Homo sapiens: one gene and its partner. The protein of the gene in region 2 binds, or shares a complex with, the protein of the main gene of each other region. Each region holds a gene or a part of one and is shown on either strand. Other genes may lie near its edges. The genes, in order: PEX14 and PEX5.

Region 1 (11,783 bases), on a different chromosome or scaffold from region 2:
AACCTGCTTGTGGCATGTGCACAGAGGACAATGCCACGAGGCCTCCGTGTGAGGTCTACCTCGCCCAGGCTGAAGGCCACCCCAGGCCATCTTTAAGTGCACAGATGAATATTGCCAGCTCTCCTGATACTGCTCCCCCGAGGTGGGCAGAGGGGACGTTCCCTGGCTGTTCCCTACCAGTGTGCTGTGGGCCGCTGGCTGGCTTACAGAGGCCTGGCCTCTGACGTGGGGTCGGGGGCTGCTGTGGGCTCACCCCAGCAAGCAGTCCAGCTGGCACACCTTAGCAGGGAGAAGTCCTTCAGAGGGCCTGTAGGTCTCAGGAAGGAAAACCCGGGCAGTCTGAGAGTGAGTGCGTGTCACCCACCACCCCCAGACACAGCCCCTCAGGGTTCCTACTCCAGACCGCCAGACAGGGAGGACCCAGGAGCCACGGCTCTGGCTTCTCTGAGACCTTGAAAGCTACAGCAGCCCATGAACAAGGGCACAATTTCCACTCACTGGCCTACAAGGGACTCAGATTTCCAAACGCATATGGTGCCAGATGCCAGGATTTAGAAATAAAATCTGACATCTGGGGCTTTTTAGCCAGCCTCTTTAAAAAACAGTTGTAGAAAACTCATAGCCTTCAGTTTTATGTAGGTTTTTTAATTACTTAAAGCTCTTCTTTTTAATTTTTTACAGTGCTCCAGTAGGAGTTTGGAAGCCAGATATAAAAACTTACATTACAGCTGAGAAAACACAGCTCTGGGTCTTTGGTTTATGGGGTAACCAAAGTCCTCACACATACGCGTTTAGATGCCAAGCCAGTGGCCCCATGCAGCTCGGGAGAGAAGGCTGGGGTGGGCCAGGGACAGCGGCAGCAAAGCCAGCTCGAGGGACTCTGAGGGGCCCAACCCCTCTCACCACCAAGCACATCCCGGGCCCCCACTGCTTCTTAAACACAACATGTGGTCTTAATCTCAGGCGTAAGGCCTGAAAACAGTTTTCCAATTTCCGGAATGGCTTCTGGCCACAGGCAGAGCATGGATCCAAAAGATGACCTGACCCAGGAGAGCAGGCAGGGCTGTCGCTGGGCTTCCTGGTGCTTTAGGGACCGGCCACCCGTGGAGAACACGCATTGCAGTGGCTGGAGGTGGTCACCAGTACCCACAGCCATCCCAGGAGGAAGAGCAGGTGGCACCTCTGTGTGTGGTTTGGATATCCAGGGGGGAGATTCCTGGGACCCTCTTCACAAGAGACACCCCAGACTCCATGGAAAGATTGTCATTTTCATGGTTTTTGCAAATGCAAAAGATCTGAGTGCTGGCTCAAGCCAACTCGTACGCTAGGAGTGGCTTTCCCTGGGTAAGCAACTCGGGATGGGACTCTCCAGAGCCCAGGCTGTGGGGGCAGACAGGGAGCAGTGTCCGCCGGCCACAGAGCTGTGGGACAAGGGACAGAGAGAGGAGCCAGTGGGTGTTCTGGAGCTACCAGGCCACTGTCTCCTGGGCCCGGTCTGTCTGATACCGCCTCAGGGATGACCTCTGTTACCCACCCACAGAACCTAGGCCTGCAATCCTGCGAGCTGGCTGGAGCCAGGCACCCTCTTGAACCCATGAAGAGCCCCAGGAATTAGGTGCCGTTATGGCTCCATTTTACAGATGAGGAGACTAAGACTCAGAGAGGTTAAGTAACTTGCCTGTGGTCATACAGCTAACAAGTGGCAGGACCAGGATTCAGCCTGATCCTGGAAGCTGCCACGCCAAGATTTCTTCACATTTGGGCAGTGAGGCAAGGACACTGCCTTGGGAGTTGGTTCTGGCTCCCTAGGATTGCCAGAACCCATGGAACCTGAGTCTAGAGAACCTGCCCGCTGCACTGCGGTGTGGATGGGGCTGGTGCTGGTGAACTGACTGCGACTCGCTTCTCCCCTGTCTGTTCCAGAACCCCTCCTGGCCATGCTGTGACCTGCAACCTAACTTATAGGTAGAGACCGTCCCATGTCTACACAGAAAGCCTCCAGAGCTGCGGGGATGTGGCTGCCATGAGATCTCCACAGGCAGAGGGTAGCTTTTCCTTCCTCCTGTTGGGAGGTGACATAGAGAGAGAAAGGATGGCCTCGACAGTTAAACGTCACACTGACTGCCCAGCAACAGCCTCCTGTCTCTACAAGGAGAGAAAGGGCAGCATCGGCCACGGCTGTGTAACCACTGTGAGACTGGGGCAAAGTCCAGCTCCCGAAGGTGGCAAGCCCGGCCCAAGGGACAAGAGTGAAGGGCACATGGGACAGACCTGGGCCTGGAGGGCCCTGTGCAGCAGAGACAGGTACCTTGGCAGCGGCCAGCTCGTGGGCAAGCTCCTGGATCTTCTGCTGCTGCTGAATCAGCAGCTCCTGGACGGAGGCGAGGGTCGTCTGTAACTGAGTCACTGCGAGGAGAAAGCAGTCACGGCGCTGGCAAATTCACAGGCACAGACGTTCCCCTCGCTCGGTCCGCACACCTCGGAGCTGCCCGTGTTCCCGCTCCATCTAATTTATCTGCAGACACCCCCAGCCCCCGCAATCCATCTAATTTATCTGCACTCTGGGTGATCTGCCTGCACTGTATCTAACCTCTAGTATTTCTACTTTATCTTTCCATTGTGTAGTTGTCCATGGTCAACAGTATATCCGTCCAGAACCTCTCCCCTCTAATTAGAGCTGGCTATGATTTGCTGAGCTCTCCCGGCTTCTCTGGCGCCTGCGTCCTTCATCTCCTGGGCCTCAGTGTCCTTGTGAAACTCCTGGGGTCTCCAATGCTGGGAGAGATGCATCTCAGGTCCCCGCCACATTCACATCCAGGAGTGGCTCAAGCCGCACGTCCTGTTTCCCACTGCTCCTTCCCACCCTCCCCACCTGACCCAAGCTGCCTGCTCAACTCCCTGGTGTCCCGTGACCCCTCAGGACCTTGTTGCCACCAATGTCAGCCTCGCAGGAGCAAACGGCAGCAGGATGGACGTGTCAGAGGGTTTCTGTGAGCTTCACAAACGTGCTCCAGAGGGACACAGACTCCTGCCTGGGACAGGTGGCTCTCTCATTGGCCTTGCTCTGGTTTTTAGATTCAGAGCTGCCGTCTAGTAAACAAGTTTATAAAGAAGAGAAGCCACCTCTGGCGCGACAGGTCCCAGCTAATCTGGGCCATCGCTGGGGCACTGGGTAATGAACGCGAGCCCTGTTGAGTCGATAACAGGGGAGGTGGCTGGGGTCCCGGGAGCCACAGTAATTACAGACTCTCTTGACCCCACAGTCGAGTCTTAGAGGGAAGGGGGAAAATCACTGAAAACCCCCCTGAAAACCTCATAGAAGCAGAAATTAAAAATGAACTTTACAGCCCTTAGAAAGGCTGTCATTTTATTCCCCTTATTAATATTCTGAGGTTGGGAGCCTTTCCGTAAAAACATAATTAATTGAGGCCGCGCCGACAGTAAACAAGCAATTTCAAATTAAACCGAAATGACGGCGGCTTCATTTGCAAATGTGAACAGATTCTCAGAGCAGATAAATGAAGTCACCACATAGAGTGGAGACAGAGGGAGAGGGGAGGGGCAGAGAAGGGGCTGCTTGGAGAAGGCTGTGAGGGGTGACTTGATGGAGTCATTAATCTTTACCTGTCTGGGCCACGCTGCCACTCAGCTCAGAGAGACCGGCCTCCATCCTCTCCAGCTGCTTTCTGTCCTCTCGGCCGCCCAGGATGAGGGGGAGCAGGTATTTCTGCAAGAAGCGGGACAGGGTGAGGAATGCATACGGACCCGGGGTTATCCTCCAACAATCTCTCAAATTCTGCCGCCCAACTTTCTCCCTGTCATCCCTGGGTTTTGGAAACCCTAAGCAAACACCATAAATGAACAAGATATTTGAAAAAGTTATGAGACTGCGATTACAACCACGTAAAAATTCTGCCTGAATAAGGACAAGGACCAGGAGGGAACGTGGACAGGGAGAGTCAGCTGGATCTGCTGTGATGGGAACTTTTTGGTTCCTTTATTTACTTTTCTTAGTGATGCTACACTATTTCTGTAACACAAAGTTATAAACTCTACTGTCAAAGTTGTAAGATATAAATGTGGATGGACACACAAGCAACAGATAATGCTGGAGCCTCCAGGAGGCGAGGGAGGCGGGGCAGCTCTTCCCGGCATGTTCTCCTGAATTGTGAACATTTTGAACCTGTGAGTGAATCACCTATTCAGAAACAAACGAGTAAATTAATAAACAAAACATCGCTGGAGAAACTAAAGGAAAATCAACAACACATTTCTGGGACCCTTGGTTCTCTCGCCAGGGGATAACATGTGCGCTCTGAGGCTGCTGGAAGAGGTCACCTCAGTCTTTTTCTAAATGAAGCCTGAATCCTCAGAACAAACTTCCTTCACGTAAGAGTCAAAAGAAGTCGAGTTCCCCAGAAGGAAACACAAGGCAGAAGGGAGAGGAAGGCGCAGGACCAGAAGAAACTGGCTCTGGGGAAAAAGAAAGTGAATGCGGCAGGGCCACCCCTCACAGGGGCCTAGAACCAGGGATGCCCGAAGGAGCCGTTCAGGAAGGGGGCAGGCAGGGCAGGGCTGGCAACTGGTGCTCTTGGTTGCCTTGGAGGTGAGGGTGTGGAGGGGTGGAGGTGGGTGGTGGGGCCTGCAGGGACAGCTGCGTGTAGGAACATGTGCACTGACGTCCAGCCACTCGGGACATGGAGACAAAGCCCCCCAGGTGAGGAGTGAGACCCGCTGCCCCCTTCAGTGGGCACTGCCAGAGGCAGTGCAGTGCAAGCCTGGCAGGAGCTGCCCGGGGATAACTTTGGTTCTTAATCTATCTGGGCCCAGATAGGAAAGAGGACGGAAACTTCTCCATTACGGTTTCTGTACCAGGGAAGGAAAAGAAGCTCTCTCACAAGGGGTTTGTGGGAACTCATTTCCAGAGTGACTCCTAAGTGAAGATCATTCTTCAGCAGCACATGTATAGACGCATTTTCTATTTTGCAAAGTGCTTTTCAACCACAGTGTGAGCTATTACCCACAACTGAGCCAAAACTCATCAAAGGTAGCCTTACACTTCAGGATGAAATGTCCTCAGCAAGAAAGGTAAAGAATTCTTGGCCGGGCGCGGTGGCTCACGCTTGTAATCCCAGCACTTTGGGAGGCTGAGGTGGGCAGATCATGAGGTCAGGCGTTCGAGACCAGCCTGGCCAACACAGTGAAACTCCGTCTCTACTAAAAATATAAAGATTAGCTGAGTGTGGTGGCGCATGCCTGTAATCCCAGCTCCTCGGGAGGCTGTGGCTGGAGAATCGCTTGAACCCGGGAGGCAGAGGCTGCAGTGAGCAGAGATCATGCCACTGCACTCCAGCCCGGGTAACAGAGTTAGACTGTGTCTCAAAAAAAAAAAAAAAAAAAAAAGAATTCATATATGTGTGTGTAACCAACTAAACACCCCATTTCTGAGATCAGAAGTCCTAAGGGCAGGAGCAGACACGCTGCCCTAGCCAAAGTCTTCACGTGCTTATAAAGCCAGTCGAGGGCTTTTTACCATTTCTTTTTTTTTTTTTTTTTAATTTCGAGAAACTGAGCAGATGCTTTAGAAATTCTCTTGTTACCATTGTGACTGATATTGCAATGTTTCTTTTCTTTTTAAAACAGAGCGGAGAGCCCAGAGCTTCGTAGAAACTACAAGTGGCAGCTCCGTGTGAGTGCCCACGCTAAGGCGGGCTGCCGAGCTGCCCTCCCGCTCCCGTCAGGCCACAGGCCCTCCATGGGTGGCCATGTGACAGTGCCTACTGCTCATTACAGCCAGGGCATTCATCTGAGGACTCTGGCGTTCGTGTCACATTCTTCTTGGTGCTTGTATACAGTCAGTGATTTGAAGGGGGCACCAGTTCAGAGGGAGAAGAACCGGGTCCCAAGAGGTGTTTTTGTTCTGTTCTGTTTATTTATGTATTTATTTGAGACAAAGTCTCGCTCTTTCACCCACGCTGGAGTGCAGTGGCACAATCTCGGCTCACTGCAGGCTCACTGCAACCTATGCCTCCCAGGCTCAAGTGATTCTCCTGCCTCAGCCTCCCAAGTAGCTGGGATTACAGGTGCACGCCATGACACCCAGCTAATTTTTGTATTATCAGTAGAGACAGGGTTTCACCTTGTTGGCCAGGCTGGTCTCAAACTCCTGACCTCAAGTGATCCGCCCACCTCAGCCTCCCAAAGTCCTGGGATTACAGGCATGAGCCACTGCGCCTGGCTTATTTTGTTTTTTAAATTGAGACAGGGTCTCCTTCTGTTGCCGAGGCTGGAGTGCAGTAGTGTGATCTCAGTTCACTGCAACCTCCACCTCCCGAGCCCAAGTGATCCTCCCACCACCCTCAGCCTCCCGAGTATAGCTGGGACTACAGGCTCACACCACCATGCCTAGCTTATTTATTTTATTTTATTTTATTTTATTTTATTTTATTTTATTGTTTGGTAGAGACACAGTTTCACCATGTTGGCCAGGCTAATATCAAACTTCTGGGCTCAAGCAATCTGCCTGCCCTGGCCTCCCAAAGTACTGGGATTAGAGGTGTGAGCCACGGCACCTGGGCCAACCCAGGATGTTTTGTTTCTCAATTTCTTTTTCTTTTTCTTTTTCTTTTTTGAGAAGGAGTCTTGCTCTGTCACCCAGGCTAGAGTGCAGTGGCATGATCTTGGCTTACTGCAAGCTCCGCCTCCCAGGTTCACCCCATTCTCCTGCCTCAGCCTCCCCAGTAGCTGGGACTGCAGGTGCCCGCCGCCATGCTGGGCTAATTTTTTGTATTTTTAGTAGAGTCGGGGTTTCACCGTGTTAGCCAGGATGGTCTCGATCTACTGACCTCGTGATCAAGTCAGGATCCTCAGCCTCAGCCTCCCAAAGTGCTGGGATTACAGGCGTGAGCCACCGCGCCCAGCCCTTGTTTCTCAATTTCTAACATGGAAATGTCCAGCTCCAGGAATACATGCTACACTTAAAAAATTATATTCTGCTACAACTGTCATTAGCTTTTGTATTACATCAAAAATGAAGAATCTGGAATACCATGGCTGACCATGTTTCATGTGCTAAGAGTGACCATGGCGAGTCTGAGTGCTCATTCAGGTTGTTTAAAAAAGAAAATCACCAGCCGGGCACGGTGGCTCAAGCCTGTAATCCTGGCACTTTGGGAGGCCGAGGTGGGCGGATCACCTGAGGTCAGGAGTTCGAGACCGGCCTGGCCAACAGTGAAACCCCATCTCTACTAAAAGTACAAAAATTAGCCAGGCATGCACCAGCACGCCTATAATCCCAGCTACTCAGGAAGCTGAGACAGGAGAATTGCTTGAACTCAGGAGGCGGAGCTTGCAGTGAGCCGAGATCATGCCACTGCACTCCGGCCTAGGTGACAGAGCGAGACTCCATCTCAAAAAAAAAAAAAAAAAAATCACCAATCAGGGGTGGAGGAGCTGGCAGCCTCGAAAGAAAAGAGGCTTCTCTACAGGGTCCCAAGATCTGGACTGGGCACCTACCCTGGCCTGCATTTTCTAGACTCTAGACTCATTTGCTTCACGTCCAAGTTGGGCCTTCACAAGGGAGTCAATGTTCACGTCATGCCTGCAGTTCTGTTGCAAGCAATGAACCTGGGATCCTGAAAGTTGACTTGAGAAGCCTGGGAAATCCTAGATTTCTATAGATGGCAGCACAACAGACAGAGCAAAAAGAACAGCTCCCATACATCTGATGACACTGAGGTTCTCACCGCCGCTCTTAAATGCTGTGGCAGAACAATGGTGTATAAAGCACTTCCATGTGCCGGGCATGGCTCTGAGTCCTCTACAAGGGAGACTGACTCTTCCGGACTTCACGACAACCTTGTGAAGTGGGGACTGTTATTCCCATTTTACAGACCAGAGCCTGTGATCACCAAGCTCCTGAGGGGCAGAGCCAGGGCTCAGCAAAGCAGCTGGCCCAGCGTCCATGCTCTTCGCCATTATGTTATTCTGTGTCTCAAAACTGCTCGCACGGCTTCCCCGTGCGGGCACTACTGTAAGTGCCTGACATGGGCTGGCAAGGGACAGACCTCACGACGCCCCTGCAAGTGGAGATCTGGGTGGTATATGCTGAGCACTGGAGAAAAGGTGGGCAGAGCCTGCCAAGCCCCACAGCAGGGCAGGGTCTGCCTGGATCCAGCTGTGAACCCCGACCTCTACCACAGCCTCTCACTGCCAACACACTCCAGGGCAGAGCACGGCAGTGCCTCCATGCAGGGGAACCAGTGAAAGGGTGCTGAATGCCACAGGGTGGCAGGGGCACAGCACCTGCAGCCGCTGGGGGTGACTCACCTTGTAGAGCTGGTGAAAGCCAAATGCAATGCCTGCCATGATGATGGCCAGGGCGCCGTAATCTCGCCATCGGGAGCCTGCGGGACCTACAGGCGGGAAGAGGAGGAGGGTTAGAAGACGCACATGGCGTCCTTCTTCGGGTGGGGGCTGGCACAGGTGCCTCAGTGGCACAGTCTCCTCGCCTCCAACAATGGGCAAGTGGAACACTCCAACGCAGGAAGGCAGCACATGATCATCACAACAGCAGCCGGCTCCACCCCTCCTGTTCCCACTGCCTCAACTGGGACACAAGGGATGCCAGTCACCCAACCCTGACTGCAGGCTGTGGGTGGAGGTATCTAGCAGTGAGCTGAGACCTGAGTTGGCAGTCAGGTGGCAGAGGTGATCTGAAGACCAACAGCATGGTCTCTACCTCAGGAACAAAAGATCCAGAGAGGATAACAGGAGTATGTTTAGGGGAGCATAAATATACCCATATATGCCCTACTATAGCTGGCGATAAGCTGGGGGCCACAGCAGAACCAAGCGGGGCCTCAGCGAAGTGGAGAGGGGGACCGTGGTACGCTGGGTGGGGGCACGGGGGTGGGCTGTGGTAAACTAGACCTCCCAGCCCTGCTCTCGCTTGGAGCCAGAGGAGAGAAAACACAAGTCTCCAAATGACTGAGCAAGGCTTCAGAGAATGAGAACGCCTATCAAAAGGGATGGGGGTGGCAGGGGAGAGGGGCTGGGGTCAGCAGGGCCTTGGAGGAGCCCTGAGGCCCTTGGGGGCTGGAGGGGAGCAAGCACAAAAGAGAGACGGTAGGTGGGTGTAGACCAGGTGAGCACCCTGGGCCTGACTAGAGAGGAGAGCTGCTCTGGCCCAGAGGACCCCAAGAGCAGGGTGCTGGGGAGAACGGAGAGGAGCCAAGGAAGCCGCAGGTACAGTGGGGGCTGGGGCGGGGCAGGAAAGAGGTAGACAGGTGGCACCAGGTGGACTGTGTGGTCAAGGAAGCCGAATATTCTTTCCTAAGCAATGGGAATTACTGGGGGATGTGAATCAGGGAGTGCCATGACCCTGGACAGCAGCACTGGGGAGGCTCTGAGGGTGGTCAGAAGTGGGGGCCGCAGAGGCAGAAGAGCTGGGGCGAGCCTGCTGCAAGGGTTCACGAGGTGGAGAGGGACTGGGACCAGCACAGAGGGCAAGAAGGGAGTGGGGCAATGTCTCAGGAGAACACATTGCTGCTGCTGTGAAGGGCAGCCAGTCTTCATGGAAGATCACCTGGCCCCGTTCTCTTCTCTTTATTTGTATTAAGTAATCTTTTTAGAGATGGGCTCTTGTTATGTTGCCCAGGCTGGAGTGCAGTGGCGATCCACAGGCATGTCCCACTGCTGATCAGAATGGGAGTTTTGACCGGCTCCATTTCTGACCTCCTTAGGCGACCTCGTGGTCCCCTGCTCCAGGAGGTCACCATATTGATGCAGAACTTAGTGCAGAACCCCGATCAGCACAGTGCCCCGTAGCCCGGAACTCCTGGACTCAAGGAATCCTCTCACCTCAGCCTCCCAAGCAGATGGACTACAGGCGAGCAGCACCGCGCCCGGCCGATTCTCTTTAGAACGGCACATAGCAAAGTGCCCTCCTGAATGCAATTCTACTTGACGTGGGGAGAGTTTCCACCTTCACTCTTTCCCATGCCCAGTTCACAAAGTGCTCCCACGTCCACAACCTCATCTGATCCTCCAAGGCACGCGGGAGAGCCCCGTCTCCACTGCGAACACCTTTCTGGAGCGGCCATCTCCAGGCCACGTGGCGGGTGCTCTGCCTCCCCCCGAAGGATCTGTCATCAGGAGGGGCGTGGGTGGGACACAGACCAGCGGGGAAGGCGATCACAGCACCAGTGGAGAGCTATCCGGAAGGCGCCCCCACAGTGTGCTGCTCATCTGGGAGAAAGGGGGAGAGGGAAAATCAGCAGCGTTCTGAACTCTGGGAAGGAACGTCACAACACGGCCGAGTGAAGCTGAAGGACTTGCTGCTTGAGAGACTTCTGCCCTCAGTTCTCACCTGTGCCTGTAAGTTTTCAGAGGTACCTTCCATGTCCTGGCGTTTTATGACCACAGGGGAGGAGAAGGCCCGTTCTTTCCTTCAGCTCAGGGCAGGATGTGGCATGAGGGGGAAGGGGCTGCTGGCACGCAGCCCCACCAGGCGGATCCAAGTCGCAAAGACCTCCGAGTGGGCAAGGAGACACCCCCTCCCCCAGGGCTGCTGAATGGCACTCTCAGGGGGCAGAGACGACAGGGCTGGAGGGGCCTGGAGTCCCTCCTTGGCCACCAAACTCCCTCCCTGCCTGCGGATTCCATGCGAGACTCCCCGGTGTGTCCTAGCCCTGGAATCTCGGTCCCAAAACTGTAATCAACATAGGGCCTCTCCCTCAGTCCCCAACTCCCATTTCTGTTTTACACTTTTTGAACAGGTAGCACGCATACAGTTTACTCATCGAATAGCACAGGGCAGTCTGTGAAAAAAGGCTTCCCCACCACCAACAGCCATTAGTAGTCTTACATTTATCCTTCCAGTGAGTCTGTGTGCACACCTAAGGTGGCACAGGATGTCTTCTCTTCCTTCACGTTTCCCCATCTCTCAATCTTGTTTTCTACAGCTGCAGGATATTCCACTTCACCTGCCCTCCGATGGGCACCCAGCTCATTTCCAACTTTCTACTACTGCACACCACGCTGCCATCAACAACGTGCACACGTGCCATCTCCCACATGGGGACACGCACCCTGTGAGCCTCAGAACCCCCAGAGGGTGGTCCCAGGGCGTGTGCATTTGCAGTTTTGAGAAATACTGCCACCCTGCCTCCATGGGGCCGATAATTCACCCTGAGCCGCTGCGCAATGCCTGCTTCCCCACGGCTGCGCCCACACAATGCACGATTCAAACGCAGAGATTCCTGCCAATACCACAGCAGGAAAACAGAAGTTCACTCTAGTTCTAATTTGCATTGATCTCATTTTGAGTGAGGATTGAGCATGTTTTCATCAGCATTTCCTTTTCGGTGTACTGTATGCTCTCCACTTTTCTACTTGATTTCTTTTCCCTTGTCACTTTAGAGAGACTTTTTATATAGCAGGGATATTAGCCCGCTGTCTGTGATCTGCATCGCAAACATCTTCTCTGGTTTATTTTTCTTTTGACTCTGCTAATGGTGTTTTGTCGCATGCAGAGGTTTTTATACAAATTTATCAATCTATTCTTTTATGGGTTCTGGGGTTTGTGTTATGGTTAGCAAGGACTTCCCCCACTCCCTTCCCAGGCTGTGCAGTGACACTCGGTGTCTAAGAAACTGCCATGGGAAGGGGACAGTGCTACTTCACTGATGGTGGACACCCCCACCCGACACAAATCACCTCTCGTTATACAGGGAGCTCTAAGAGCACTGAGGCAGACGGATCTTTCACCTCGACCCCAAGGA
Region 2 (12,200 bases):
GGTGAAACCTAATAAACTCTGAGGATTGAAACAAGGGCAACTTCTTGATTTTTGATCTCTGCATAACTGCTATGTAAAATGTTACCACTGGAGGAGACTGGGTGAAGGGTATACAGAACCTTCCTATACATTTTTTTTTTCAACTTCCAGTGAAACTAAGTACTTCCAAATAAAAAATTTAAATTTAAATAATTGAGCTGCAACATTCTTTTTAAACTTGATTTTGACTCTTAACAGTGGAGATTTTAAAATAAGAACTTAAAAAGTATAACCTTCTTTCATCTCAAAATCTACTTATCTATAAAGCCATAGCTAACCCATACAATTGTATCAACCACAAATGCTGTAATTAAAAATGAAGGATAATAAAAAAAAGTCAGTTACGACAAAATGAACTCCTTTCCTTTAGCTTTTTCTCCCAGATCTCAATTCATTCATTCAATACCAGAGGCCTACTACATGCAAAGCAATATACTGCTGCAATAAGACATTTTTATGAAGGCAGACTTCAAACAGCTCAACTCCCATTCTAAGGTTTGCATGTCTCTGCCTCTGTGAAACAGGCACGATTCCAAAAGAATCTACAAAATACTAGAAGAGCTCTACTAAGAGCATTTAACTGGTGAGACAGATAAAACATGTTTTTCTAAAGTTCTTTTTCATTTCAAGTTAAGGAAGATTTCAATGGCTGCATGCAATTCAGGTAATTACAGCAAAAATTTCATCCATCTCAACGCTCATAGTAGCAATGATTTTTCTGAATTATCAAAAATGACTAATGCCCACATTACAACAGAAGCCTCTCTGTGATAAGAGATAGCACTTAAGTCTAAGGTTTATGTGAAAAACTGAGTTTCTGTCTTGGAGAGGGTCTTTGCTATGGTTCAGATTTTAACTTGCGGCAATTTCACAAAGAATCTCAACGTGAGGGCGCGTGCGGTGGCTCACGCTTGTAATCCCAGCACTTTGGGAGGCTGTGGTGGATTACTTAAGGTCAGGAGTTCAAGACCAGCCTGGCCAACATGGTGAAACCCTGTCTCTACTAAAAATACCAAAATTAGCCGGGCATGGTGGCACACGCCTGTAGTCCCAGCTACTCAGGAGGCTGAAACGGGAGAATCCCTTGAAGCCAGGAGGCAGAGGTTGCAGTGCGTACAGATTGCACCGCTGCACTCCACCCTGGGTGAGAGCAAGACCCTGTCTCAAAAAAAAAAAAAAAAAAAGAATCTCAAGAGCCACACAGACATGAGTTTGAATATCATCTCTATTATTCAATGATTTTGCACAAAGTATTTAACTTTTCCAAATCTCAGTCTCCTCATCTATAAAATGGGGGTGGGATATCCACCTTGTGTTACTGTTACTGTGAAGTTCTAATGAGCTTAAGAAGATAAAGTGATTAGCACTCTTAAAGCCAAGAGCACCTACTGTTCTACCTTAACTCCAACTTATGGGTGGGAAAGAGACACGTGATAAAAGAGACCCACAGATCTTATTAAAGGTGAGTTTTAGTTTTTAGATTTGGGATTTTTCTCTTGTGTGCGGAGAAGCCCATCCTAAACATGGGCCTCCTTCACACACATTTGTCCCTGATCAGATAGGCTTCGGGTAAGAAGAATCAATCCTAAAGGATGCGAGGAGCAATGGATGCTCTCAAGGAAAATTAGACTTGAGACCTTGAAATCTGTAGCAAACGAAGAAAGAACATAAATTAAAATGGTGGGGGTAGAAACCAATTCAGTCCCTTTAATCATCTCAGAAAAATTCAGGAACCATGATGATGTGACTCCCCGAGATCCTGGAACTTGGTAACTTTCTCTATGTGTATCTCTTGTTATTCTTGATATCTTAAACAGGAAAAAGGCTAACTTTTGAGAGCAATCAGGAAGAGGAAAGCTGAAGAGACTGCCCTTCCCACCATGTACCTGATTAGATAGGCTTAGGGCAAGAAGAATCAATCATAAAAGATGCAGGAGCAATGGATGCTTTCAAAGAGGAAAAATTAGGCTGAAACCTTTAAGTCTGTAGCAAAGCAAGAAAGAAGATAAATTGCAGGCCTGACAGTATAGCATCACAGTTAAGGCCACAGGGTCAGGAATCATTCAAATCCAGGATCAAATCCCAACTCTACCACTGACAAAGCTGTGTAACCTTGGGCACACTTCACCTCTAAGCCTCAATTTTCTTATCTTTAAACTAGGTCTAAAAACAGTAACTACCTCTAGGGTTCTCATGGAGAGTAAGTAGATAATGCATTCAAAGCATGTAACACAAGGCCTAGAACGTAACTATTGTTATTAATTTTTATTATCATCATCATGGTATGGTCTTTACCTTCTAAAGCCATACACTTCAGGCACTGGAACTTCACAATAACACTCTGAAGGCCCCAATTCTGTTCCAAATAACTTAAGGCCAGAATCCCAGGTGCTGTAGTGAATACTCTCTTCCTCGGCAACACTGCCATCCATCCAATCTGTAGATCCTCTCCACTAAACCACAGTGATAAAGTAAAAAGGCCAACCAAACTCTTCGTTCTCTCTATCCAAAATCTCTTATCCAGTACAAACCCAGTCCTCTCTTTAATATACATTACATTCCGTTATCACCTAAGGGAAATTGAGTTCAGTACCCTACCCCTCTAGAAATGAGTCATGAGACCAGAAAAATCGTAATCACACTATAACGTGAACAGGGGAAGGGTATAGAATTCTGTCCCATAGAAGCCAATATAGATTTTCCCATAACAAGTTTCACCTGTAACTTCAGAGATGAATTCTTGGGACCAGTCAGTCTCATTATAATCCTGAGTTACATCCACAGCATCTCCAGCTGCAAGAAACTCCTGGGCCCAGTTCTCAGACAAGGCCAAGTCTGCCACACCAGGGGCTTAAAAGAGAGAGAGAGAAAACTAAGAAAGAATACATACATACCATTCCATCATGCCTAAAGAACCCTGAATCCACGTGAAAACACTCTGTTACTTTTGTCTCCTTCTGCATCTCAGGTCCCCAATGCCAGCAGCATCCAATGGAACCCCCTTCCTTGGCCCTGGCTACATGGAAAACGATCTCCCCTCCCACTAGACTCTGGACTCACCTCTCTGGGGAGCCTGGCGGAAGTTTGACTGCTCAATCTGCTGCATCTCAGCCAGGAGGTCATCCATCTTGAAGGTCTGAGGGGCACGGGACACAAGGGGTGCATTCTGGTCCTGCAGGAATTCAGCCACCAACTGCCAGAAGGGAAATGATGAAATGAACCCATAGGCTTGGGAGGCCCCAGCAAGAGGCAGGACCCACTGGAGGGGGATCCCAATGTTAGATACAAGGAAAGGAAAACACAGAAACTGGAGACACATAAAGAGAAACTGTCTTTCCATAGATTTAGAAGGACGAAAAAATACATTTAAAAACAAGCAGGCATTCTCATTCGGTCAGGAAAGCCCAAAAATTGAAATACGGGTGAACTAAGTTTAAAGGTAAAAACACAGTGGGCAAGAGAAAAATGGGACAGAAAAGAGACTGGTCTATTTACCTCATCTTCAGAAGCTACTCCCAAAGGCTTGGAGGCCTAAGAGAGAAAGACAGAGATGTACAATGACGCAGTTCCTCTAAAATCAGGGGTTGATGAAGCCCATAGGCATCTGAGCCTCGGCTTCTTCATCTATAAAATGGTTGCATTTATTTAAAGGTGCACAGGGTTTTCTAGTGTTTATAAACGCTCAGTAAGTGGTAACTACTATGATTTGCAACACAATAGAGAAAGCAGTTATACCAAGATGTGCAAACAGCCCCTCCACCTCAGACCACCACCACCTGGGCTTTCCACCTCAAGAACACTCACTGCCTCAGAGGCTGCACCTGGGCTTTCCACCTCAAGAACACTCACTGCCTCAGAGGCTGCACCTGGGCTTTCCACCTCAAGAACACTCACTGCCTCAGAGGCCGGGGCTCCGGGGGGCCAGGGGCCAGGCCTCAATCCCTCCTGCCGAAGGGCCTTGTCCTGGGTGAAGTGCCCGGCGAGCTTCATGAGCGGGTTGGCACCCCCGCATTCGGCCTCCACCAGCTCCCGCATTGCCATGGTGACCGCCAGCTCTCTGATGGACACAGGAGGTTTGGAACTGAGGTACCCAAGCCAGACCCTTCTCACATCCACAACTCTGCCCGTATCTGAGGAAGGCACACAGGCGTCTGCCCCACACTGGCCGCCCTCCACCCCAGTGCTTTTGCTGCGACCCCCACCTCTGCCAGGAGTTCGAGGGAGGTCGGTACTCTCTCCTGCCGCCCCCCTCAAAGGCCACCGCTTCCAGCCTGCGCCTCTGCAGAGGCCTCCGCGACTACGGTCCCATGGGCTGGGGGCCAGCAGCTGCCTCCACAAAGGGGCCTGGACCCCGGGGGACCACGGGGACGCTTCAACAACCAGGCTGGACGGCGACACTGCCCGAAGAAGGGACAGTGGGAAAACAGCCCGACCATACCTAGCCCCGCGCAGCCCCAGCACGCGGTGAGCACGGCAGAGGAGCATTCCCTCCCCTTAAGTCACCGGAGCCCTTCCCCCGGCTCGGCCCGGTCCCTCCCGCGCTCCCCACCGCCCATCTCCCCGGCCCTGCTGCCGCTCCAGCCCCGCCCCTGGGACCCGCGAGGCCACCGCAAGGGTGGGGAGGGCCCAGGGACGCGGCCCCGGGCCCCCTCGGGGTCAGGCGCTCACCGCGGAGCGCCGCGCCGCACGACCCGCCGGGGCACCAGGTGCTGGCTTGGGGGAGGGGAGAAGAGGGGGCGGGGAGCCAGGGGGCGGGGCTCAGGCTTAAAGGGGCCGTGACCGCCCCGCAGCGGCCCAGGCCCAGCGGAAGCTGTCTGAAAAGGCGGGGCCTTAAGACTGCGACGCAGCCTGACGGGAAGAGCCGTGAGTCTTAAAGGGGAAGAGCACCTTAGAGAGCGGGTCTTGGAGAGTCGCCTTTAGGAGCGCTCGAAAAGGCCACGGGCCCTAGGATTTGTTTGACGGAAAGCTCAAAGAAGAGTGGAGCTAAGAAGGGCTTCCCAGGCTCTGGGGGAAAGCCGAAGACGCGAGATCCTAGGCTCAGTCGATCCTGCCTCTTCCCTTGGGCGCATTGTGACCTAAGGGGATTCAGTGCCCTTTCTGAGCCTCAGTTTTCCCCTCTAAAATGGGGCTGGCTAATGTTCCCAAGCCCAAGAAAGAGAAAAGCCCTAACACCAGGGGCTGGGGAGTCCAGTCCGAAGCCTTCTTCAGCCTCCTAGGCCTGCCCCGCTTCCAAATAACCCCTAGCGGGGTAGCGTCACTGTCTCCATGGAGACAGGGGCCCGCCCCCGCCTTAATCCCTCTCCACCTCTGCATAATGGGGAAAATAGCACTGCATGATGACAAATTCCGGAGACCAAAATAGGGTCCAACGCATCCTGAGACCTCGAGCTGGTAACGTACAGGGAAGGTGAACAGTGAGTCAGCCCTTCCTTCCGCTAAGTCAACATAGTGGCCTTATTCCCATCACTCCAGGCTGGGAAAGGACAAACATACAAGAAATGCTTTTAATCACGGAATAAGACTAAGCCTCAAGCCCCCTCATCTGCCAAAGAGTGTGCTCTGCTGTCAAACCTCAAAGTCATTGAGAAACAAACCCTGATAATCTCACCCAGCTTCAAGACCAAGGGAGTCCTAGTGTCATGGAGAAGAGCAAGGAGGGGCCCAGGGCTGCCGGTAAATGACCAAGGGCAATAATGCCAGACGAACAGAAGTACCATCCCAGCCCAGGGTGCATGAGCGGAGGCAGGCAGGCAGCAGGTGGCGCCATGGGCCGGGCTTGTTTCCTGGCTGTTCTGCAGATTTCAGAGGTGGAGGCCTCAGGGGGCCACAGGGAATGTCTGTGTAAACTCATCCCTGGGAAGACAGAGAAGCTGCTCTGACACCTCAGGGGAACAGAATGGCAGGGGACAGACCATAAGACTGTGCAACATTTCTCCTTTTCCTTGCCTTTTCGCCCTCTTTCAGAGGCCCCACTTCTACACCCCGTTTTCTTCCGGAGCACACAAATCCCAGCCCTTGGGCGTCCCCTGTTCTCAGGCTGCCATCGTGAGGAAAATACCTGATAAACTAAACCACACAAGGATGAAGAGATGCCCTCCAGAAGGTGCATACTTTTAAAAAGAGGACCCCCTAGAGAGAGCAATGTTTAAAGGAACCCATCTGATACAGTAGAATTTCAGAACCTCAAGGCAACCAGAGTTTCCCAGTACCACTTAAACATCACAACACACATAACCTTCTGCTCTGCTAGGAGTTTATCAACTGATTAGCCGTAACTCACTTTGTGTGCAGATCTTGGAAGAATGCTAATAATAATAACTGATGTTTACTAAAATCCAGGTGTTGTGTAAAACACTTTATGTATCTCAATGTTTTTAATCTTCTTAATACCCCTATTAAATAGATATTAGTAGACCCACTTTACAGATAAGACTTGTGCAAAATCAGATGGCTAGGAAGTCAAAATTTAATCCAGGCATAACTCTAGGCACCTACTTCCCAGTCTTAGAGAAGACTTACTGATAAACCATGGAGATCTTTGATCTCCTAGGCCATAGAATCATTCACAGAACTTGGTCCACAGTCCCAGCCAGAGGTGCTGGGAAAGGGCTAATAGAGTGACTTTGGTGTTTAATATTTAATTTACTGAAGCTCTAGATTTGAAACCCTAGATTTTGTTAATCCAGGTTCAACTTTAAATTCTTGTTCTATTCATAAAAGTAGTAATTTTTATAAAATAAAAATAATTTTTACTTATTCTTTAATGTTTGACGAATTCAAGTTCAATAGATGTTTAGACACACATTGCATTGACTGTGTGCCAGGCATTGTTTCAAGCACTTTTCAACTATTGATTTATTTAATCCTCCTAATAGTTATTAATAATAACTATTATCCCCCATTTTACAAAAGAGGAAACTGAGGCACAGAGAAGTTGAGTGACTTGCACAAGGTCATACTAATAAATAGCAGAGCTGGGATTTGAACCCAGACCACGGTCACCAAACTGTAAAGGGCTCAATGGTCAATATTTTTGGCTTTGTAGTCCATGCAGTCTCTGTCACAGTGACTCAACCCTGCTGTTGGAGCACAAAAGCAGACATAGGCCACACCTAAACAAATGAGCATGGCTGTATTCCAGTAATGCTTTTTATGGGGACTGAAATGTGAATTTTATATAATTTTCATGTTACAAAATATTCTTCTTCTTTTGATGTTTTTCCAACTATTTAAAAATGTCAAATACTTATTTGTTTTGAGACAGTCTTGTTCTGTCACCCAGGCCGGCATGCAGTGGCGCAATCTCGGCTCACTACAACCTCTACCTCCTAGGTTCAAGTGATTCTCCTGCCTCAGCCTCCCGAGTAGCTGGGACTACAGGCACATGCCACCATGCCCAGCTAATTTTCGTATTTTTAGTAGAGATGGGGTTTCACCATGTTGGTCAGGCTGGTCTCAAACACCTGACTTCAGATGATCCACCCCCCTTGGCCTCCTGAAGTGCTGGGATTACAGATGTGACCCACCGTGCCCAGCCAAAAAACGTCAAATACTTCTTAGCTTGCAGACTATGGAAAAACAGGGACCAGGCCATAGTTTGTGGATCTTTGACCTACACAGTCTTATTCCAGAGTCCATGCTCTTAAACACTGTGCTGTACTTCTGCTTTTTAGAAATAAAAGACAAATTTCCTAATATTTTTAACTATGTGACATTTAATATTCATATTTTAAATACCTGACAGGGCAAACAACACTACTAGGCAAAACCTTTCTGAACTTTTATTCAACCCTTTAATAAATCAAACTTATAAACATTTATTCAATTTTCTTAATCCTCTTAAAGTCATATGTCTAAAACTCTTTTCTTTTCTTTTTTTTTTTTTTGCTGTTGCAAGATTTAATAGAGTGAAAACAGAGCTCCCATACAACGGGAGGGGACCCAAAGGGGGTTGCCACTGCCAGCTCAAATGCCTGGGTTTATATCCCGATCATTGTCCCTCCCCCTGTGCTCTCAGGCAATAGATGATTGACTATTTCTTTACCTCCTGCTTTTAGCCTAATTGGTGTTTTAGTGAGCTCTCTTTACTACCTGATTGGTCAGGTGTGAGCTGAGTTACAAGCACCCTGTTTAAATGTGAGTACAGTCATCTTCCCCAGCTGGGCTTAGGAATGCTTAGTTGGCCTAGGAAATCCAGCTAGTCCTGTCTCTCAGTCCCCCCTCTCAACAGGAAAACCCAAGTGCTGTTGGGGAGGTTGGCCAACGACTGCTTTAACTGCTTCCTGCTGAATTGGGGCATAGTAGGTCATGCAGTTGAGATTTCCTCAGCAGGGGTGCCTTTGATGTCATCAACATCAGAGCATGGCCTAGCAGGTCCAGGGGTCTGTAGTAGATCTTAGTCATGGACTGCATCTGGGGCTCCATTTGAAGAGCCATTTGTAGTTTTTACAGCTTTGATTCTGGAAGAGACAAACTTAACAAGGAGGTTAAAGATACAGGGATTGAAATGTATGGCCTGAAGTGCAGGGGGAGGCACATCCAACAGTTAGTAGGGTTTGGGGATAAAGATAAGCCAGTATTGGCTGGATACGTTCCTCACTGAGGGCCCTGGTGCCTTTGGATAATTTTAGCCCTAAGTATTTAACCTGCTGTAAGCAGAACTGAGCCTTTGGTTTGGAAACCTTGTAGCCACAGGTGGCGAGGAAGTTTAAGAGCGCTTGGGTAACTCGATGGCACAAGGTTTCTGAACGGGCTGCTAAAAGTAAATCATCCACATACCAAAGGGCAAGAGTGTCCAAGTATGAGAACTGGCTCAAGTCTTGTGCTAATGCCTGGTCAAATAGATGGGGGCTATCCCTGAACACTTGGGGTAAAGCAGTCCAGGTGAGTTGAGATGTTGGGTTCAAAGGATCTTCAAAGGCAAACAAGAATTGAGAGTCGGGATGTACGGGGATGCAGAAAAAGGCATCCTTAAGATCCAGGACTGTAAACCACTCTGCTTCCTCTGGTATTTGTGAAAGCAAAGTATAAGGGTTAGGTACAGCTGGGTATAGAGGGACAACGGCCTCACTGATAATCCTGAGATCTTGCACTAACCTCCACTGTCCATTGGGTTTCTGTACTCCTAAAATTGGAGTATTGCAGGGACTATTGCATGGTTTTACTAGGCCTTGGGCTTTTAGGTCCTTAACGATCTTTTGAAGTCCAAGTTGGGGCTTGTTGGGCTGTCCATCAGAGAGCTGGGTGGATCTAAGAGGGTACTGCCTTTGGTAGGGGAAGGAGGCAGAATCCTTTAGTTTAAGTTGAACAGGACAGGCATTCTTCACTTGTCTATTTGTCCTTCTGTGGCCCAGACTTCAGGATTAATTCCTTCCTCAAGTAGGGGACAACAAATGGGTGCTCCTTCTCCTATATTCAAGTGTATAATGGCCCCTGCTTTTGCTAGAATATCTCTCCCTAACAAAGGAGTGGGGCTTTCAGGCATAATTAGAAAGGCATGTGAAAAGAGTAAAGTTCCCCAGTCACAACTTAGTGGCTGGGAGAAATATCTAGTGACTGCCTCTCCTAGGACCCCTCAGATAGTGACAGATCTGGAAGACAGTTGTCCGAGACAGGAGAGTAAGATTGAGAAGGCTGTGCCAGTGTCCAGGAGACAGTTAACCTCCTGGCCCTTAATGGTCAAGCATACCCGGGGCTCTGTGAGGGTGATGGCATGGGCTGGTGCTTGCCCTGGGCACACAGTTCTGCTGCTGGATCATCTATCTGGTTAGTGGCTTCTGACTCAGAGGACCTTCGTTCCCTGGGGCAGCAGAACTTCCAGTCATTCCCTTGACATAAGGGGCATGGACAAGGGGGTGGCTTATTTCTATTCGGACAATCTTTTTTAAAGTGCCCTTGTAGACCGCATTGGAAGCAAGCATTCAATTTACCCAGCCTTTCTGTTCCAGAGCCTCCAAAGTCTGCTTGCTTGAAGGCCATGACTAAAGCTGTGGCCTTTTTTTAATCCCGTTTGTCCCATTCCGCCTGCTCCTCCTGATCTCTATTATAAAATACCAAGGTTGCCAAGTTCAATAGGGTTTCTAAGTTTTGCTCTGGGCCTAAGGCAGATTTTGAAGTTTTTTTTCCTAATGTCTGCAGCTGACTGAGTGATAAACTTATCCTTTAAGATTAGTTGGCCTTCAACAGAGTCAGGTGACAGAGAGGTATGCTTTCTCAATGCCTCCCTTAGTCTCTCCAGAAAGACAGTAGGATTTTCTTCCTTTCCCTGTGTTATAGCAGACATCATTGAATAGTTCATCAGCTTCTTCCTAGTTTTCCTTAGTCCTTCTAGCACGCAAGTTAGCAAATGTCTGCAGCACCAATCTCCATGTTCTGATTCTGCGTCCTGATGAGGGTCTACACTGGGAACTGCCTACTGGCCTGTGGGGAATTGTTCTCTTTCCTCTGTTGTCATACTATCATTGACCTGATTGAGATACCAGAGATCGCCAAACTCTCGGGCTACAGTTATGGCGGCACTTCTCTTGTTTGGGGTTAGTGTCTGATCTAGCAGTAACATTATATCTCTCCATGTCAGATCAAAGGATTGTCCTAACCCTTGTAAAACATCAACATAGCCATCAGGGTTATCTGAGAATTTACCTAGGTCTATTTTAATTTGCTTCAAATCTGAGAGGGAAAAAGGTACATGCACTCTGACTGGGCCAAATTCTCCTCCCACTGCCTGGAGGGGGCATAATCGGGAAATATTGGCACTCTTTGGTTCATTGTTTACCCCTTTGTCTATCTCCTTTTGGACCGTTTGTGTGAAGGGGGGTCCTTATTAGTTGGGGAAAGAGCCGGGGGAATGCTGGGGTAGGGAGGTAGATTCTGAGAGCTTCCTATAGGGCATAAATTACACTTTTTACGTAACTGCAAGTTATCTCTTAATGAAAAGAAAGTTTGCACATATGGCACTTCACTCCATTTGCCCTCTTTTCTACAAAAGAGGTCTAGCTATAAGATGGTGTTATAATTTATACTTCCCTCAGGAGGCCAGGTTTCTCCCTCTTGAAGAGGATATCATGGCCAGGCAGTACTGCAGAAGAATATAAGTTATTTATTTCTTAGTGTTTGAGGGTCAAATTGGTCCCAATTCTCCAGAATACATCTTAGGGGCATTTTTGCCTTGGGGGGAACATTTCCCATCTGAAAAAAGAACATAGGGATGCCAGCACCCCGAGTCATTTTCCAATGCGCATCGCATCAGTTTTAGAGCATCCTCGGTGGTCTTAATGCTTATTCCTTTCCAGGGTGCGTAACCACCCATGGACCTCTGCTTATCGGATTAGTTATGCTCACCAATGTAGCAGTCCTGCACCTGTTTTCCCACCTTTCTTGACCACAAAGAAAGGGGTCGGGGCTGCTGGATTCTAGGGGTCCTTTACTAGCATGCCCAACATTGCCTTTGCACTCAGGGGTGAGTTCTAGAGCTGGGCTGTGTTCCTGAGTATTTCATAACAACCCAGTTGCCCCATGAAAATGCATTCCCATAAATAACAGTTCCTATGCAAATTCATTTCAGAGAGGGTGTAGGTAACCTTTTGAGTCAGGATTGAGATAGAGTTTTTGACCACTGGGGCCTTTGTCCTTCTTTTTCTTTGTAGGAATATGCCCTAATTATTGATCTTAAACTTTTTGTTGTCCCGGATTAAGTCTTTTTGGGTACAAAATATGACAGATGGATCCTGTTTATCCTATGTGCCTTTTTCCTATGAGAAGGGGAGCAAGGAGAAAAGGATGGACTTGCTGGCTTTATATGCTAAAGTCCAGTAAATAAACTTCTGGGTGCTATGTTGTCTTTCCAGTAGTATTGACTTACATAGGATCACTAGGCAAAGCTGTGAGAGAGATAGTTTCTCTCTTGGTAGATGGATTTTGGGAACACAGCGGAAGGACGTTTGCTCATTGCCCCCATTTGCCACTATAGGAATATGTGCCTTCCCTTAATTTACTTAATGCATTTTCATCCTGATCTATTATATTGTTGTAGACCGAGTTCCAGTTGTTAAAGTACTGGGTCATCAGTTTTAAGGCCCTGGCAAGGGTGGTGGGGAATGGGTCCCACATAACTGCCTATGTTGACAGCTGTATACCTAAATTGGGAGGGACACCAGGGGCAA

Evidence for each region.
Region 1: the proteins of PEX5 (region 2) and PEX14 are in contact, whole or in part, in an NMR structure (PDB 4BXU), measured with the Homo sapiens proteins. Residues at the interface, in NP_001124497.1 of Homo sapiens: Glu59, Leu62, Val63, Glu65, Phe66, Leu67, Gln70; in NP_004556.1 of Homo sapiens: Thr31, Phe35, Asn38, Arg40, Val41, Ser44, Pro45, Thr48, Arg49, Phe52, Lys55, Lys56.

The regions. Positions count from the first base shown.
Region 1 is NC_000001.11:10,614,963-10,626,745, reverse strand, and holds part of PEX14 (peroxisomal membrane protein PEX14), read right to left. Parts: intron 9,911-11,783; exon of another isoform or gene 9,631-9,910; intron 8,415-9,630; coding exon 8,329-8,414; intron 3,728-8,328; coding exon 3,625-3,727; intron 2,407-3,624; coding exon 2,309-2,406; intron 1-2,308. UniProt on the Homo sapiens protein: Component of the PEX13-PEX14 docking complex, a translocon channel that specifically mediates the import of peroxisomal cargo proteins bound to PEX5 receptor.
Region 2 is NC_000012.12:7,182,258-7,194,457, reverse strand, and holds the start of PEX5 (peroxisomal biogenesis factor 5), read right to left. Parts: upstream 4,773-12,200; 5' UTR 4,708-4,772; exon of another isoform or gene 4,525-4,707; coding exon of another isoform or gene 4,478-4,524; exon of another isoform or gene 4,097-4,477; coding exon of another isoform or gene 4,081-4,096; coding exon 3,934-4,080; coding exon of another isoform or gene 3,844-3,933; intron 3,571-3,843; coding exon 3,535-3,570; intron 3,233-3,534; coding exon 3,100-3,232; intron 2,890-3,099; coding exon 2,758-2,889; intron 1-2,757.